Linked DNA regions of Homo sapiens: region 2 is linked to region 1. The links come from fine-mapping of genetic effects on gene expression. A gene starts in region 1. The other region holds a variant in brackets. All regions are shown on one strand. Distances are from middle to middle.

Region 1 (9,977 bases):
ATAGTCTCTTTCCTCCAAATTCCTTTTCAGAGAACTTTTGTTCACACCCTTAAGGGTTGATGGCAAAAAAATTTTTGAGAAATACCAACCAAGGGGACGATTATAACATTTTTATATTTGTCCTCATATAATTTTCTTCTTCTTCTTTTTTTTTTGGTTTTTAGACAGAGTCACGCTCTGTTACCCAGGCTGGAGTGCAGTGGCACTATCTTGGCTCACTGCAACCTCCACCTCCCAGGTTCAAGTGATTCTCCTGCCTCAGCCTCCTGAGTAGCTGGGATTATAGGCATGAACCACCACGCCCGGCTAATTTTTGTATTTTTAGTAGAAATGAGGTTTCACCATGTTGTTCAGACTGGTCTCAAACTCCTAACCTCGTGATCCGCCCACCTCGGCCTCCCAAATTGTACAGGGGTGAGCCACCACGCCCAGCCTCTTTCTTCTTCTTTTTAAAAAGAACATAAGATATATTGTTCCCCCGTAAAATTCTATCCAGTCTAATGTTTAAGTACTTTAAAAATTTTAATGAATGGGGTAATTCACCATTCTTCAATTGCTCTTACCAAACCTTTGTTTAGCCATTGTTACAGATAAGTTAGGAAAGTCATATCTCCTCTTTGATGTATATGTGTGTTAAGCAAGTAGCTATGATATTCTTTCCTATGCTTTAATGAAAATCTTGTACACAACTAAAATACTCCATGAGACTTACAAATATTGTAATTTATTTGACTAATGTAGAAAGGGCTTTTCAGAAACAACCAACATTTCTCAGATCAGTATGAATTTTTGGTTTAATGATATTTTCTTAAGAAAATGTTTGTTTTAGTTACCAAAAGTAACCACTTAAAAGACCCTCCATAATCTGATTTTTTTGGAGAGGAAGATGATCATATATTTTGCTAAACAGCAAAAAAGGAATTAAAATAAATTATGATATATAATACATGTAAATAAAAATAATAAAAGGAACCAATTACAAGAGGTCATAGCAAAAGGAATGTATTAAAATATATTCAGAAATAGGTAATCCTAAAGAAAATTATTATCTTGGTTCTTTTATTGTAGCTAGAGGAATGGATTTAGTCAAGTGAGATTAGAATCAGTGACTATACATTATTTACTATGTAAATAATAGGATATATACTTTGGAGGAGATGCTAGATGTTTTGAAATTTTCATCCTTGCAAATATATATTTCAACAATCTGGTCATTTTCAACCTGAACATTTTTTTCAATCTGAACATTACTCTTAACTAGTACTTGTACATTTTTACAATATTATGATTGAAGTTTGTAAAGATGATCCAATATGTCTTCTGAATCATAGAAGAATTATTAAATTAGGATATGTTTTTATTATTTGCAAGCTGGTAATCCGGTCTGTTGTTGTTTCTTTTTCTTTTAACACTTCTAGACTAATCGGAGCATGCTTATCAGGTATCTAACCTTGGGCTCATTCTTTGATCATCTTTGACAACACAGAGTTTACACTCAACAAACATATAGCAACCAACAGCTGATAAATTTAAGATTCATGCTATTATAGCAGTGTCTATCACAAAATAATTGTGACTTAACTAAAATTTTAACAAATGCCACATAACTCTTTTTAATAAAAACATAATTTTTCCACAATGAAGCACAAACAGATATATCTTCATTTCTAATTTGATAGAATGTAGTCTGCTGGTGTCACCAAGACAGTAGATTTCAGGAATAGGCCAGATCTCATTTTAATCTGAGTTAGGACAGATGTTCAAGTTTGACTTAAGAGGTCTTATCCAGTTACATCTTAACTCACTCCTGACTTCCCCAGAGATGGGTACGATGGCTCTGCCTACAACAGAGGGCCTACAGAGGGACTTCTTTACATGATCCTCTGACAAACATGAGCTGAGCATGATGAGTATTAGGGTTCCCTAGAAGCAGAGCCTAAGGTGGGGCATGATTCTTGGGCCAGTGATTTAGAGCGAGTGCTCTCAGCAGCAGCGGAGTGAGAGAAGCAGGATATGGCTGGAGGAAAAAACCTAAGCTCGCTGGAAACAAGCTCTAGCCTAATCCCAGGAGGAGCTCTGGAGTAGGATTTACACCACAGAATTGGTCAACCTTGAGGCAAGGTACCCTTGTACTCTCATCATCAGTTAGTCATTGCTTTTGGCTGCAGGGTTGTGTGTGTAGGGGTTGGGGTTATTAAACAGAAATCTCCCAGGCAATGAACCTCTTCTGCAGAGTGCAATTCTGCAGAGAAGGAAGCAGCTGTATTCATCAGCTAATACCCACAGCAGCTGGGGGATGGATCTATCTGCCTTGTAAAGGGGGCCTGAACTGGTCACCAGCTGTGTAAAACACTATGGTATAGAAACACTGTCATATATATGTTAGGACCCCAGAACAGCTCTGAAGAAACAAATAACTGAAACATACTGAAGAAAGCACTGCAGAACCTGAACACTTAAATTATGTACGTAGAGCATTGCTTCTAAAAATATGCTATGAGTACGACTAAGGATGCTAGGAACACATCTCCCTTTCTAACATTGGGTTTACGAACATCCTCTCCCCTCAACTACCCAGTTTGCTTAGCAGTAGCAGCTGGTGGTGAATTCTGCCATTAGGGCAAGATGCCCAGCAAGGAAAGAACTGGGTTGGTTAGGAGAATTTAAGGCAGATGAAGTCTCTGGAATGGGGATATGGTGTGTAGGGTGAAAGGAGCTAAAAGGGAAAGGTTTCTTTGTGTATGAAACCCACTCACCAATCTCCACCATTTGTTTATTTCTACCGGCCCTAGAGACACTCTTGTTGGCTCGTCTTTCCTCTGCCAACACTTTTGCTTTGCATCAGGATTTTTCTCTTTCCTCGCCTCTGAAACTCGACTTCTCACAGCTCTACCCCTTACACTGACACTTTCTAATAGTTTGACAGCTAGAAATAATGGAGAAAATTAAGTAAAAAGTCTTTCCGTGCTACCTCTGTTATTTTTGTTTTTAAATTTGGCCAAGCCCAGACATGTGTGCTATCGTTGGGTGTTGGGGGAAAAAATAAAAGACAAGATGATTTGTCTGCAATTCAAACCCAAGAGGGTTTCCTAGGTGTGGAGTGATGGGTTCTGAAATGCCAAATGAGAAAGAAGGTCAGGGAGCTACAAAAGAGGTACAGAGGTAGGGACAAGGCAGTGCTTCATTTACCTTCAGCAAACCTGGTGATTTACCTTCTCCTTCAGTCCCTTCACCATCACCAATCCTTCCCCTGAAAAAACCATTGTGGACTGCCTGATGATAAGTTGGGAAGTGAGAGTGGGTAGGTGTGGAGCAAGAATAACAACATCCTGGGTACCGTACATTCTGAAGGAACAGAGGGAATTCCTGTTTTGTTTTAACCTGGGACAGAGGGGATTGGTTTGTTCTCTCCAGGCTGAGGCAGTAATTCCTGACTCTAGGGACTGCTGATATGGAAATTACTACTACCACTCTGGGTGGAGTCAGATGAGTATATTAAAGAGTCTCATTGTACTGTCCTAAAATAAGCAAGATCTTTGCTAATATCCAAGCTTTACAGAACGGTGGGATGAGGTGAAGGCCCTGTACCTTTATCCCCAGTGGTCTTCAGTACTATAGGAAGTAATGGGGCCTGTGTGGCACAGTGGAGGGCAATGAGTGAGCTGGTTATGCCAATTCCTACTATAGTCACCTCCTTGGCTGCCAGCCTTCAAGGGAGAGATCTTTGCCTTAGTGGGTTCTGCCCTTCTGCTTCTGAAGAGAACCTAGTCTTTCTGTATGGGCATTCAGGCAATTCTTGGGGTGGGGAGTTGGGGGAGAGAGAGCACTTGAAAAGAATTTATGGTGGCCTTTTTCTCAGTGATATTTGAGAAATACCAAGACACATCTGAATGTATCTGAGTTTAAGTCTTGGCTCTATTTGTTATTAGCTCTGTGACCGTGGGCAAGTTATTGATTTATATGCAATCTGACTAATCTGAGTTTTCTTAGCTGCTTTAAGCAGACAAAGAGGACAGGAAAGGGTAATACACTTAAGAACCAGCAAAGGGCTATTGTGAGGATGAAGCAATAACAACAAAATGGGTTTAAAGCACTTATCATAGTGCGTGGTCCATAGAACTGCAAACGTTGGATTTTGCTTATTTTAGGACAGTACAAAGAGACTCTTTAATATACTCTTCTGACTCCAGCCAGAGTGGTAGTAATTTCCATATCAGCAGTCCCTAGAATCAGGTATTACAGCCTCAGCCTGGAGAGAACAGGGCAATCCCCTCTATCCCAGGTGAAATGATTATTATCATTTATTATTTATTAGCCAGAGGTCTTAGGTGAGATCAAATTCAATCATTATAATTTATATTTCAATATACTGCTTAACTTCATGATAGGCAATGTTCTAGGTGCTCCTCACATGTGAAATTTTAATATTTTTACTGCAACTCTGGAGGTAAGTACTATTATTATACCAATTCTACAGATGAAAAAGCCAAGGAATAGCATGCTTGAATCACTTGCCCAAGATGCCATGTTTAGATAGTGGTACAGTGGGGATTCGAACGCGGGAGCTCAGGTTTCAAAGTCTGTGCTCTTTACATATGCAGCTAAAGAGTCAGACAAGAACCAAAAGGAGATGGAGAATAGAGGGTAGAAAGGGCACAGGTTCAAGGTGAAAGGTCAGAAACTGCAAATTCGGAGTTTGGGTTGGTCTAGCAGCTTAAAGGCGTCATCATGAACTGTTCACCTAAGTAAGTTAAGCTCCTGTTTGAGAATGACTGATAAGCTTGCAAGCCAACTTACAAACAAACTGGGGAAATGTTCCAATAGATGACTAAGTCTTTTAGGTCTTTTTACCTGTGTTTTTCGGTCTCTATACCAGATTAGTCGCCTGGCTCTCCCAAACAGACCGGCCAACTGACGTAGTCGCGAAACGGTTAATGTCGAGGCGGGGGCGGGGGAGGCGGAAATAAAGAGAGCGGAAGCAAAGAGGATTGTGGGAGCTCCGTTGTGCGTCGCTTAAGTGAGGGCGGCGGATGGGCGAAGGTCCGGTGACTGCGACTGTCGCTGCTTTCTGAGGCCACAGGAAAGGGGCCGTCGGTCGCCGCCATGACAGCGAGCGAGGCGGAGGTTTGTAGCACTTCTTATGGGCTGAGGGCGTAGACACATCCTGCTTCCAGCCTAGCAGGCAAACGGGAACGGAAGTGATAGGGGATCAGAAGTTGCGAGGGGATGAGGAGTAGGGGAAACTGACAAGCGGACGGACCCGGCGGCGAGAATTGATGGCGTAGCTGTAGGATTAAGGGGCGTGTCAACTGTGTTGTGTGTGTTGACACTGAGATGTGTGAATCCCCTCATTATTTTTAGCTGGGGACAGGCGGGGTCTATGGGGGAGGGGGCGGACGGATGAATGGAGGATAAAATCAGGGCGAAAACGTGTTGTCTGCTGGGCACCAGTACATCTGAGTCACATCTCAGCAGGATGATTTTATTGGAAAGATCTAGGTCCCTGGTTTCAGATTCTGCTATTGATGCGTTGATTGATTTCCCTTACCAAAATACCAAGTACCTGCTCTGTGCTGGGTACTGCACTAGAGGCTCCGGATGAGGAAAGGAATTAGGCTTTTTCCTCGACATTTACAGCCTGCCGGTTGCTATCTGCATTTGGAGACAGGCTATTACAATACAAGGAGACAGAGATAGATCCTGTGTTATGAAAATCTATTGGGTGCCACCGAACTCATCTGGGAGTTGAGATCTGGGACGGCTCTTTGATGCGGTGATTTAACATATATTTTGAAGACAAAATAAGCAGGGCAAAAACGAAGTGCAATTTTCCTCCAAGCACCTTCCCTCCCTGTTGAGGTGAACTGGAGAACTGAGTAGCATTTAAGGCCCAAAATTAGTGTATTTCTTTTTTTTTTTCTTTCTTTCTTTCTTTTTTTTTTTTTTGATAAGGAGTCTCTCTACTTCTGTCGCCCAGGCTGGAATGCAGTGGCGTGATCTCCGCTCACTGCAACCTCCGTCTGCCGGGTTCAAGTGATTCTCCTGCCTCAGCCTCCCGGGTTGCTGGGATTAGAGGCACCCACCACCACTCCCGGCTAATTTTTATATTTTTATATTTTTAGTAGAGACGGGGTTTTACCATGTTGGCCAGGTTGGCCTCGAACTCCTGACCTCAAGTGATCCGCCTGCCTCGGCCTCCCAAAGTGCTGGTATTACAGGCATGAGCCACCGCGCCCGGTCCCCACAACTAGTTTATTTCTGGTAAGAGCATTTGCCCATCACAATGGGACTTCCAGGCGCCTCTGGAAGAATCAGTCTTACGTGAGTGCAAAGCCTGCAAGCTCTGGGTAGGACTACGATGGAGGTGCTAGTTACTTGGTTTTCCAGCAAACTCGGTTCACAGCAGGGAATTGTGCACCCACCAGAAATCCTAAGCAATATTTCTCTGAACAAGAAAAGAAGCCTCTTTGTTTACCAGAGAAACAACAGTATAGCAGTCTAAGTCAGTGGCTCTCAAACTTTCCTGTGAATCAGAATCAGATGGAGCGTTTCTTAAAACCAAGATTGCTAGGTCCCATCCACAGAGTTGCCCCTACAGTTGGTCAGGAGTGGACCCCCGAATTTACATTTCTAACTAGTTCCCAGGAGATGCTGATACTCCTGGACATGGGGCCATACTTGGAGAACTATAGGTCTAAACGGAGCTGACAATAAATTGGAAAGAATATCTCCTGGAATCTCTTAGAACCCGGGAGGCAGAGGTTGCAGTGAGCCAAGATTGCGCCACTGCACTCCAGCCTGGGCAACAGAGTGAGACTCTGTCTCAAAAAAAAAAAAAGAATATCTCCCCTAGGGAAGGCTAGGCACACTCCTAAACGTCAGGCATGTCTGAATTCAGACACAGTAGATATGAAATAAAATGGACTTATTTGACACTGCTTAGAAAATCTTTTTATTTTTATATTTGTATAATTTTATTGTATATTTACAAATTGTATACATTTATAGAGTTCAAAGTGGTATTTTATATATATACAATGTAGAATGATTAAATCAAGGTAAATAACATATTCATCACCTAAAATTTTATCTTTTTTTACACAAAAATGACTCAACATGGAATTTAATAGTTTTTTTGTGGTGCTAACATTTGAAATGTACTCTTAGCTCTTTTGGAATATGAAATTTTGAAATATCACCACCATTCTATTCTCTGTGTTTGTGGGTTCCATTGTTTTAGATTCCACATACAAGTGAGAACATGAAGTATTTGTCTTTCTGTGCCTGGCTTATTTCACTTAGCATAATGTTCTCCAGGCTCATCAATGGACAGATTTTCCTGATTTTTGAAGACTGAATAATATTTCATTGTGTATGTATAGCACATTTGCTTTATCTGTTCATCCACTGATGGACACTTAGGTTGATCCCATAACTTGGCTATTGTGATAAATCCTGCAATGAACATAAGAGTACAGATATCTCTTCGACATACTGATTTCAAATTCTTTGGATATATACCCAGAAGTGGGATTGCTGGATCATATAGTAATTCTATTTTTAGTTTTTTGAGGAACCTCCATACAGTTTTCCATAATGGCTGTACTAATTTATATTCCCACCAACAATGTATAGGGTTGCCTTTTCTCCATATCCTGGCCTGTTATCTTTCACCTTTTTGATAATAGCCATTCTGGAAGGTGTGAGATAATATATCATTGTGATTTTAATTTGCATGTCCCTAGCGATTAGTGATGTTGAGCATTTTTTCTTATGCCTGTTGGCCATTTGTGTGTCTTCATTTGAGAAATGTCTATTCGGGTCCTTTGTCCATTTGTTAATCAGGTTGTCTTTTTGCTACTTAGTCATTTGAGTCCCTTATATATTTTGGACATTAACACCTTATTAGAAGTAGGGCTTGCAAATATTTTCTCCCAATCTGTAGGCTGTCTCTCCCCTCTGTTAATTGTTTTCTTTGCTGTGCGGAAACATTTTAGTTCGATGTAATTCCATTTGTCTAGTTTTGCTTTTGTTATTTGAGCTTTTGGGGTCAAACCCCAAAATTCATTGCCCAGACCAGTGTCCTGTAGTTTCTTCCCTAGGTTTTCTTCTTGTAGTGTTATGGTCTCAGGTCATATATTTAAGTCTTTAATAAAATGGATGTGTTTTTGTTGTTTGTATGTTTTGGATGGTCGAGCAAAGGTCATCTTCCTGAACTAAACAAAGCAAATTGTTTTTCTCCATTGTACTTGTCACAGTGACTTATACCATAAATTGTTTAAAAACACAAAGTAGCAGTTTTCTATTCAAATCCCTTGCTGATTTTTATATATTCAAGTAGTTGTTTACAGTGGAGTTCACACCTCCACTGTATCAACAACGAAAAATGAAGTGTTCCTAATTTCTGGTAATAAATTATGTTTGAGGTTAAAAATTAAAAAGACAATGTGACAAGCTAATTGACAGACAAAGATTAGTATAAGAAGTCAGAATTGGTAGGTAGTTCCACCCCCACCAATAAAACTCTCCCTTTAGAAGAAATACAGTTATTCACTGCATAGTGGCATTTTGGTCAACGATGGACCACATATATTATGGTAGTCCCAGAAGATTATAATGGAGCATATATAGAAACCTGATATACAGCACTTGATATTGGCATTGCAGATCAGTTGCGGTAATGATTGATGTTCATTATTGGTACTGGAACATTTTGTTTTCCATATGAGAAAAAAAAAATATATATATATATATACACACACTCTAGGTTTGTGTAAGTACAGTCTATGATGTTCTCACAATGAAATTGCCTAACGATGGATTTCTCAGAATATATTCCTGTTGCTATGCAAGGTGTGACTGAAATCATTTTATTTACTCTAGAACACAGAATCAGAAATCTCATTTTGTTACAGCTTAATTTGAAGCCTTCCTTTAGGGGGTGGCCCTAAACAGACTCCTGGAGGGTGGCAGTCCACAGTTATACCTCCCGTTCAAACCCCCTCCCATGACCCTGAAAAAGGCTAGGACACATTTTCAGAAATTTCACTAATCATTCTAGACTCTTGTCAATGCTTCATCCCAAATCTCGCTAGGCCAGTTACAAAACAAAATAAATGAAACCCCAAACCAAACACTCAGACACACATAAAAAGACAACCAAAAAGTCCATACAAACTGGCCTGAGTCTATTGTGAGTCTTTGTAGGGGCCAGCAAGGTGCTAGAATGGCCAGTGCCTTGGATGTTTCAGAAATCTGTTCTCAGGCTGGGCGCGGTGGCTCACGCCTGTAATCCCAGCACTTTAGGAGGCCGAGGCAGGTGGATCACCTGAGGTCAGGAGTTCAAGACCAGCCTGGTCAACATGGTGAAACCCTGTCTCTACTAAAAATACAAAAATTAGCTGGACGTGGTGGCAGGTGCCTGTAATCCCAGGTACTCAGGAGGCTGAGGCAGGAGAATCGCTTGAACCTGGGAGGCAGAGGTTGCAGTGAGCCGAGATCGCGCCATTGTACTCCAGCCTGGGCGGCAAGAGCGAACCAAGAAAATGTGGCACATATACACCATGGAATACTATGCAGCCATAAAAAATGATGAGTTCATGTCCTTTGTAGGGACATGGATGAAGCTGGAAACCATCATTCTCAGCAAACTATTGCAAGGACAAAAAACCAAACACCGCATGTTCTCACTCACAGGTGGGAATTGAACATTGAGAACATATGGACACAGGAAGGGGAACATCACACACCAGAGCCTGTCATGGGGTGGGGGGAGGGGGGAGGGATAGCATTAGGAGATATACCTAATGCTAAATGACGAGTTAATGGGTGCAGCACACCAACATGGCACATGTATACATATGTAACAAACCTGCACGTTGTGCACATGTACCCTAAAACTTAAAGTATAATAAAAAACAACACGAAACAAAAAAAACAGAAAAGAAATCTGTTCTCTATCATGTCCATATTCCAAA
Region 2 (9,977 bases), 46 kb after region 1:
CAGAGACATGAAGTTAGATATTTATATATATTCATCGACATAGAAGTCCACGAGATACATTATTTGGTGAAAAATACACAGTATAGAACAGCACTTATATTTGGTCACTCTTATCTATACATATATCTATCTGGGTACACAGGTACAGGGAGATATCTGGAAGGACATTCACCAAAGGGCTGACAATGGTTACAAAAGGGTGCTGAGTTTCAGGTAATTTGTACTTTAGTTTTTGTATCTTCCTTTATTTTTGAAGGTTTAATGAAAAGATGCTCCTTTCATAAAAAGTATAAAGTCATCAAAGAAATAGACACATGGAGAATAGACCCTTAAGCCAGCAGAGAAGAGAGCAGGGACAGAGGTCACACCATTCCCCATCCACTGTGCTGGTATGCAAGACCTCTTCTCCTTCCCAAAGGAAAACTGCTTTGTGGATTAATTCATGCAGTTAGAAACCCACCCCCCTCTCCTGTTATTCCCATTACCAGACTCTGAATACAGTCAAGGACTCATTTAGGGCTGGACTAGATCCTTACTGTGGCTCAGAAGCATCACTGTGTTCTCCAGGGACCTCTTTTGACCTCTCCTCTGTATGTGTCAGCTCCTGCAGGGTGATGATCAGATTCTCAAAAACCTGGGCCTTGTTGCTCTCATTGTCACAGGTTTCTTTTGAGTGGCCCTCCTCCCCACAATATGAGCAGCGGGTTGTGTATTTTCGCTTCCTGGCTCTACGAATATTCCCAGGACCATCATTCTTATACCCAGAACCACCACTGGTAGAAAGAGACTGAGCCCCAGAATTGTTGGGGGAATCAATAACCAGCACTTGATCCAGAGGTCTGGCTCTTCCTCTGAAGGGAGGGGCACCTGTAGGTGTCAGTGAAGGGTACAGAGACACCACCAGGATCACATCCTCATCAGAGTCATCAAGGGTATCATCTATTTCTATCACGTTGCAGTTACAGTCAGCACTGCTGATTGCTATTGGCTGGGCGCCCTGAAATGCCACAGGGCTGGCTGCCCTCTCCATTATTGGCTCAGACCTTTTCGGCCGCTTCCGTTTAATAAAAGCATCATCCCAATCCTCTTCCTCCCTTATCATCTTGATTAACTCCAGGAAATTGGGAAGCCGCTCCTGCTTATTTGCATACATCCTGAGAAGATGCTTAAGCCTGAAGCGCAGGTCCCTATTCAGCTCAGCGCCTAAAAGAAGCTGTTGCAAGCGAGTCTGGTTTGCATCTTTCTCAGCTAGGATGCCTGCCTGAATAGCATTCTGGAGCTGCACCTCTAAACGGATCACATAAAGGGAGGCTTTCTCCCCTTGTGCCTGCAGGGTGTTAAAAAATTTACCATGGGCAGTCACACTGCTTTCAGACTCCCCAAACACCAATTTCATTGCCCGCAAGAAATCTGCTACACTTAGGTTGGGGTTGGCCGCCTGAAGCAAACGCATGACCTCCCGGGCAGGGCCCCTAAGTGTTTTCATCAAGCGCTTGAGTTTTTCCTCCTCAGACATACTCCAATCTGGCAGGACCTCATTGACTTGGATCAGCCAGTTTTCAAAGGTTTCTTTCCCCTGGGCTGGCACCACTCTTCCTGAGAACAACTTCATGTTTCTCTCTGCCATTTTGACCACTAAAGGACAGAGACTCCTCCCCAGAGACCTCAACATGGAATGGGCCCAAGGCGGCAAAGGTGCATTCTGCTGCCTGCTGTTACCCACACACGCAGTGATGCTAGCCATGACTGACGACGATAGGGTATCTGAATACAACAAGATGCTCGCGCTTTTTGGAAAAGCCTTATCTGCAGGATTCTCCAAAGCAACGTTCCTGGGCTGTGCCTGCCTTATATTTCAGTAGGGATTCTAAGGAAAGTAAAAAAGGTTAATAAGATAGTGGGCTGTGGGGAAGCAGTCTGCAGTAGCATTCTCTATCTTCCTGAATAGCCTTGCAGTGCATTTTATATCTGCCCAGTGCCTTAACAATACCCTGCAGGAGACTGGCAATTACAACATTCCAGAGCTAGCAGGTGTCCCTGGGCTAGTAGGTAGTTTTTCAGAGCCACATCCATCCCCTCCTGCCTGTACTCCAGGAGGGGCGACAACTGTTGCTTCTAATTCTAGATGACATAGTGTTGGGAGCTGATACTGGGCCCTCAAAACGGAACTCAATGGTTGTGTGTCACAGATTTATGATAATAAGAAACCATTAACCTCATGGCCTCAGGTCTCAATCACACCCCCTTGTCAACGTTTCCCCCGTTATTTCTCAGATTCTTACATGAGCTCGGAAACTAGCGTTCGCCTTTATTTTACGTGCAGCCTCTGCAACAGGTGCCTGCCGTGAGAAAATTAGCCTCTGGGGTACGGCCGACTTTTGTCCACTGGGTGTCGCAGATCCCAGTCCTCAGGGCCTCAAGACTGTGCCGCGAAGGAGGGAAAGGAAGGGTTGGAAGCAGCTTCATCTGAAAACCTGATACCTCCCCTCCACCGCCTCCACTGTCGCCAGGCGGAAAATTCCCTCTCCCATCTTCTGAACGCAAGCCAAAGTGCCTCCTGCCCTCCCGCGCATCCCCCTTACATTTCCTCCGGGAGACCCTCGCCCTACCAGCTCTGCAATCCGCCGCACAGAATTCAAGTTCGGATTCGGCTTTGATGACCTGCCAGGGAGAAAGAGACTAGAAGTTGGATAACCTCCCACCCTCATATTCCTTCCCAGGAAGAGATGAGGAGATGCAAAAGGGGTTCAAGACAGCTTGCGATCGTCTCCTCCCGCCCCTTGCCACCTCCCCGAACACACCCCGCCCCCGACACCCAACAACACCCCCGACCTACGACAACACCCCCACCCACCTTAATCCAGGCAAATCCTAAATCCTATCCAGTCGGCAGCATCCAGATGAACCACAACTCCTTCCTCAGCGCAACCAGGCCAAGGGAGTGCTCCATCCCCTGCCTCGCAGTTACTGATTCTCCAAGCCGGGCGCCGCCCAGTCCTGGCGGGGCTTCCCCCACCCCTCTCCGCGCCGGGCAATCGCGCGTTCTTTCTTTACTTGTGCTCCACTGGTGGGCAGCATGTGCTCCCGCGTCCACAGCTCTGTTTCGCCTTCCGGTCCCCGTAGCTCTGCAGGGGAACGGGATCTCTGCCGCCTCCTCGGCCGCTAAGCGACCCGGGGCTGCCCGACCTAGCGAGTGCGCACGACCGCCCAGCGAGGGGTAGCCGAGTCGAGGCAGCACGGTTCCCAAGGCAGCCAAGGCTGCGCCCACCCTCCAGTTCGGCCCTCCGGGCAGCCGCGGTTGCTTTCAGTCTCTGGCGACTGAGACAAAAGAGCGTGACGGGCCGGGCGACGCGGCCAATCAGCGGGGCGAGGGGGCGGCCTCGCCGCACAGCCTCCGGCCCCGAAGCTACTGCTAGCAAGAAGGGGGAGCGGGCCGGCTGGCCGGCGGGCCGGCGGGCGGGGGCTGCGGCAGACAGGCGCGGGAGGCGGCACGGCGTCAGCAGCTCGGACGCACGGACTGGGCCCATTTCCCTTTCATCCGTGAGTTTGCTGCTAACCCATCTCTTCCCTTCTCCCTATCCCCTTACACCTCGGCTCTCCTCCGGGCTTTTAGACCGGATACCTTAAACACGAGGTGGGACAGAAACCAAGTGAACAATGAGAGTTCCTCACCTTTGTATAGGGGGAAGCGGGGAAACAGCGTTTACTGAGTGCTTTCTGTGTGCAGAGGCGCCTGCATGGACATCTCCTTTCCTCTTCTCAGCAGCCGTGTGAAGGAGGTAGTAGTGTGCCCATTTAACAGGAAAGGACTGAAGCACCCAGGCAGTACAGTTAGGAAGTGCAGAGTTAAGAGCTCACACCCAAGTCACCATGTCTGACTTCAAAGGCTGCCCCTTGCCAGCACTCCTCTATTCTGTCAGATTAAGGGATAGTGGAGAAAAACCAAAGCCAGATGGGAGGACCAACTTGGGATTGCATAGAATTGGTGAGCAAGAACCATTATCTCCATTTCACAGATGAAGAAACTGAGCCAGAGAGAGACAGGTTACTAGTTTTGGCCTGTATCCTGCAGCAAATAAGTTACAGCATCCAACCTAGCACCGTCTGTTGCTCTCTAGATGCTAATTCGTTGCCCTGCAGCGCTGCCTGGAGAGTATTTTTGCACAGGTAGTCTCAAACCATCTCAACAGCAGTCTCAATGTGATAATAGTGCTGAGGGAGGGGGTGAGGAGGTAGTGGGGAGAGGGCTGAGGGAAGATGAGGGCAACCTTTATGGTGCCCATTGTACAGAAGAGGAAACTCTTCTTGGTACTTTTCTTTCTTTCATTTTTTTTATTAATCTTTTTTTCTTTTCTTCTTTTTTTTTCTTTTTACACAACAAGCTGCCTGTTTTATAAAAGCAACATAATTTCGACAGCCCTTTGTGACCCCAAAGAGGCCAGGCTCAGAGAGGTAAAATGATTTGTCTGAAAATACAAGGTGAAGCCAAAATTTGAACTGAGTCTCTGAATCCAGAACTCATGCTATTAACCAAAGTGTGAGTACAAGGTGAGCTGCCTCAGAATCATTTTGGAGAGCTTGTTATAAATGTAGATTATTGGGCCTTACCCCTGGGGGATTTTGATGTAGTAGGACTAGGGGTGAAGAGTGTGATTTGTAGTTTTAACCAGCCCTGTAGTTGATTCTGAGGTGTAGAGAGATTCATGAACCACTTTTCTAAACACCACCACGTGATGCTGAAGGTTATAAGTAAATGGGCCTGCCATCAGTGTATCTGTCCATGGCATATCTGTCATGAAATGTAACTCCAGAGCACAGGTTCCTACCCGAGGTCCTTCCTGGAATTGTATGCAAAGAATCTGGACTCCGTACATTCTTCTGAGCCCACAGCTTTGCAGATTTTCAAATGGGTCTGTCATAACGTCTTCCTTCTTCAAGCCATGCTTGATGAAGAAGTGTGAGAAAT[A/C]AAACCCCATTTAACCTAACCCCCAAACCACAGCTCTCTGTTGCTGATATGGCTCTTTCATTTCCTGGCTCAAGGACAGGTTGCTAGGTTGCCCTTCTGTGAGCTCTTCAGGGTACTTCTCCTTTGCTGGATTTGGCATCACTGGCCCCAGAGAAGGAGCAACTCCATGGAAACGGCATGCAGGGCTGTCCAAAGTGAATGGCCATGAAGGCAGTGGCTGGAAAACCTGCTCCATTTTTCCCTGACTTAGAGAGCAGGTATTACTTCCTTTATGTATAGTGTGGCTAGGAGGCTTCTGTGGGGCTTGTTCTTGACTCCTGATGTTTAGAAGCAAGTAAACAGTCTGATGCCCTTCCGCTGCTGTTGGCTTCATCTTCAGTCTGCCAAGGTACTTCACTTGCTCCTTTCCGCCCTCTTATTTACAACCCCAAGATCTAGAGTTCCTTGGAGTAAACAATAAAAATTTGGAGATAAGCACCTTCCATCTCAGGATCATGGTCTGTGGATGGAACAGTGGGGTAGTGGTGGTGGAGGCTGGAAAGTGTGGATGTATGGAGAAGGCAAGTTGCTCACCTCACACACTTAGGGGTGATGCTGGCAGTTGCTCTTAGGTTTCCTTCAGACTTTTGCTTCTGCTCCCCCATCCCGTGACATCTGACCCTTACCTCCCAGAAGAGTCTTGTTCAGTGTTTAAATTGGCTTTATCACCAAATTAGGTATTTGCAGCTGGACTTGGTAGGGATGGAATCACATAGGACCAAGAATAGGTGTCAGAGCTCAGACAAAAATAATGACAGGAAATGGATTGTGTAAAGGTGCCAGGGTTGGGCTACTAGAACAAAGCGAGGGACTCTTCATGCAGGGATGGGGGTAGTATTTGCAACCTGGCTTCAATTGGATACAGGACATGGCCTCACATGTATGAGTGTGTTCCAACTGATGCCTCTAATGAGACCACATTTTCTAATTTCAACAAATAAACCTTAAAAGCTTGAAGGTTTGGAGATAAAGCTTTCAGTTGAAACAATAATAGCTGCCTTTGGCTGCCTGCCTCCTTTGTGCCAGGAACTTTCTGTCTGTTATCTCTTTTAAGCTTCTTATCAACCCTGTTGAGACAGCTATTGTATCCCATTTTGCAGAAAGGGAAACTGAATTTCAGGGACATTAAGTAACTTGTGTCAGGCTTCACAACTTGTAAGTGGAGGCACTGAGACTGCAGGCCAGGGATGTCGAACTCCAAAGCCCATGAAAACTCTTCTTTGCTGCCTTCCAAACAAGCAGTCCAAAATGCATTCTGTAGATAACCCAGTTCATTAGACCAATTGCAGCCTTTAGAACAATTTAATTGTTATCTTGCCTTTATTCCTATTATCTCATTTTTAAAAAATGAAACTGCTAATATAACTTATGAAGCAACTTATATACCAGGTGCTGTGCTAAGCACTTTCCATACTTTGTCTCATGCATCCTTCATGACAATCATTTTACATATAAGGATACTGAGGATCAGCGAGATGATGAAACTTGGCCAAGGTTATAAAGCTAGGAAGTGACAGAGTGAAATTCAAACCCAGGGCTGCCTGTATCCAGAGCCCATCTCTGTGCCCTACAACACAATGCAGCGGAGAAGACAAATGTGGTCCTCATCTTAAATGGGCTTCTCTCTGTCAACCACAGCTCTATTTCCTTCTCACCACATGGGGTAGGCCAGCCCCATGCACAACTCACACTCTTAAGCCTATGTGCCTTAGGCCACTTCCTCAGCCTAGAATGCTTGCCCTCACTCCCCTACCTAACAACAGCCTATTCTACTCTACTCAATTAAGGATTGAGTCATATGCCCCTTCTCAGGTGGAATAAATTGCTGTTGTCTTTTTGCTTCCACCTTCATTACTGTACCCTTTATTTTGTCTTTCTGTAGAGTTTAGCACACTGTTGACCTGTCTCCCAAGCTAGTTGACTAGATTTCTAAGCACTTGAGGGCAGGCACCAAGTTCTATTCACTCTAGCTCTATGGTGGTTTACCCACAATGATTTAGTGGATGATCAATACATGTTTGTGAGCAGACCAAAGGACTGGCTGAGAGATGCCCTGAATGAACAGACAAATGCATTCATTTGTGGCTGGATCCTGGGGCAGTCACACAGTCTACCCATGTGGACTAGACTGGCTGGGAGAGTCTGGAATCCTCTGGGCTCATTTTACTAGGCTGTAAACATAGGAGGCAGGTCATAGGGTACAGGTGATATCTGCTTAAGGCCAACTCTAGGTCCATTCTGTGGTCTATACTTTGAATTCATGTGAAGGGGCCAGGCTCTCCTAGATTGCTTATGTTGCACCTTCCTATTTGTGGAAGTAAGGGCTTCCCTGCCTCCCTTGGGAACAGAAGATTTGTTCCCAAATGCCCCTGTATCTGGTTATGGCTGTCCCGAGAGCATCCAGAAGGAGCATGCGTTCTGTGGAGACAGATAGTGAAGTCCAGAAGCATCTTTTTTTGATCCTTCTTATCAAGGCCACCATGTTATGGATTCTCAACCACTTTGTCTCATTTTATGTTATTAATCTCTGCCACAACGTTTTGAGGTGGATCTTAATACCCCTGTTTTGTAGCTGAAGAACCTGAGACTGAATGAAATGTCTTTTCCAAGGTCACACAACTAAGTGGCAGAGGCAGAATTCAGTCTCGGGTCTGTCTGCCCTTTCCAAAGCCTGGCATCTTAACAGAAAATACATGGGAGAAACACGAACTCCCCTCCCATAAAATGGAAAGGATTGGATTTATAAAATGGATTACATATTAAGGTTAGATGTTTCTCAATTATTGTTCACCTTTATTCCCCCAAAATGATTTACAAAAATGGCAGAAGGAGTTGGGGATTGAAAAGTACAATTCCTCTATCAACTATTGACCTGAATGCCCAATATCACCCCCCTCTGACAGATACAGTATGGAGATGACTAAAAATTATTTTGCCCTTTCTGCTCCATTTACAGCTCAGATGGGTAAGGCTCCAAGATGTCACTGAATTTCTAAAGGTCACACATCAAGTTGATAATAAAACTCACTTAGAATGCTGGTATCTCATACTACCCCACCTGCTTCCTGGCCTTTCTGGGGTAGGTGCGATAGTTGGGAGTCCTTGCACTGCCAAATCCTAGCCCAGTTTTCTTTCTGCTAAATCATCCTGCCTCATGGTGTCAGTGAACATGTTTATAAATGGTAGGGAGGAAATGGAACATTATTGCACTCTGAGGTAGAAGAAAGGACAAATATTTACTTCACCACCTGTCCTTATTTAGGTGAAGGTAAGACTTTGGAAAGAAGATCTTTGATAGGAGAGCTGAGGACTGTTGGGGGCTTCTGTAGATTTAGCAGCCTGGGTATCTGGGAGGAGTCCCCTTTGGCTCTGGAGAAATGGAAGTGGGGCTTCCAGGGGCCAGAGGTGGCCCAAAGGGATGCAAAGAGTGGGCCTCTTGAGTTTTTACTCCTGCTCAGTTCTCAGCTAAAGGGTCAGAGGCAGAGGGGTCCTCCCAGTGTACTGGCTATGAGGGTAAAGGAGGCTGAGGCTCAAGGCCATCATGGAATGTGGGGGTAGGGGGAGGTGGTTATGGGCAGAGTACAGGAGGCTGAGCCTCCATCTGCCTCCACCAAGAGGTGAGTGTGGCTCCAGGGGAGGGGCGTGGTGGTAAAGTGAGATTGTGAGAAAATGGATGGAGCAAAGGGGATAGAAATGAGAATGTGGGGATATAGATGGAACAGGGTGGGGTTATGAATGAGATTGTGGGGATGTGGATGGAGCAGGGTGGTATGAATGAGACTGTGGGATATGGATGGAGCAGGGGGGATAGAATGAGATCGTGGGGATATGGATGGGGCAGGGAGATAGGAATGAGATTGTGGGGATATGGATGGAGCAGGGGGTATAGAATGAGATTGTGGGGATATGGATGGAGCAATGGGGATAGGAATGGGATTGCGGGGAGATTGATGGAGCAATGAGATTGTGGGGATATGGATGGAGCAGTGGGGATAGGAATGAGATTGTGGGGATATGGATGCAGCAGTGGGGATAGGAATGGGATTGTGGGGAGATGGATGGAGCAGGGAGAAGGGGCTAGGGAAGAGCAGAGCTGATGGGAGTGATTTTGGAAGGAGTAGTACACCAAGGCGGATTCTTGGCCTGGCAGCCTCGGGAAGGCTGCATTGGGCTTCTTGCAGTGTGTGGCTTCTACTCCTCCCTGGGGACCTCAGCTTGGACTCTCTGGTTCCCCATTGGCCTGCTAGCTTAATTAGAGTCCCAACCTTCATGCCCCCATCACATAGCCCAGGGTTCTGTGTGAAACTTGTGGGTCTGCAGTTCCTGCCAAGCTTTGTGTCCCTGTCACTGTAGATGGAAGCCCTCCGTCCTGGCCATCATGCCCCTCCGCCTCTCCCCTGTCCTCCTGCCCCACACCCACACATCTCTGTTCCTTTCCCTGAGGTGGCAGCTCTGGCTTCTGCACACCCTGTCTCGTCAGCCAGGGACCCCCTCTTTCCTCTCTGGCAAACTCCCTCAGATCTGCACTGAGCATTCATTTTTTTTCTTTAGATCCCAAAATTCCTTCATATGTCCTGGCTTCCAAGTTGCTTCTCATACTAGCCATCTGCTTCCTGGCCTTTCTGGGGTAAGGAGCAATAGTTTGGGGTCCTTGCACTGCCTATTCTATCTAGTACAGTGGTTCTAAGCCGGGAGCAGTTTTGCCTCCCAGGGGACATTTGGCAAGGTCTCAAGATATTTTTGGTCATCACACTGTGTAAGTCACTACTGGTGCTACTGGCACGCAGTGAGCCGAAGCCAGGGAGCCTCTGAACATTCTCGAGTGCAGAGGACAGGCGCCAAGAATAAAAAATTATCCTGCCCAAAATGTCAATAGCACTGAGGTTAAGAAACCCTGCTCTATTATATAGCTACAGGTCTTAAAGGTTAGGCTTAGAAGTTGCCAGGTGCTGAGCCTTTAGGCACTGAACTT

Evidence for each region.
Region 2: its variant is fine-mapped to the expression of SLC25A53 in whole blood (TOPMed, PIP above 0.99). The same link has a PIP of 0.9 or more in T cells, blood mononuclear cells and lung.

Annotation. Positions count from the first base shown.
Region 1 is chrX:104,152,025-104,162,001 of GRCh38, reverse strand. It overlaps SLC25A53 (solute carrier family 25 member 53), which reads left to right and starts at 4,993. Exons shown (of 2, transcript NM_001012755.5): 1 at 4,993-5,124. It also overlaps a transcript of FAM199X not described here. RefSeq lists an enhancer at 4,920-5,219.
Region 2 is chrX:104,105,879-104,115,855 of GRCh38, reverse strand. All of the region lies in intron 1 of SLC25A53 (solute carrier family 25 member 53), which reads left to right. ZCCHC18 (zinc finger CCHC-type containing 18) reads right to left here and starts at 3,333. Exons shown (of 3, transcript NM_001143978.3): 1 at 2,855-3,333; 2 at 2,610-2,661; 3 at 14-2,422. The coding sequence starts at 1,744. The coding sequence ends at 533. RefSeq lists a silencer at 3,383-3,612 and an enhancer at 4,810-5,049. The variant A/C (reference allele first, on the strand shown) is at 4,967.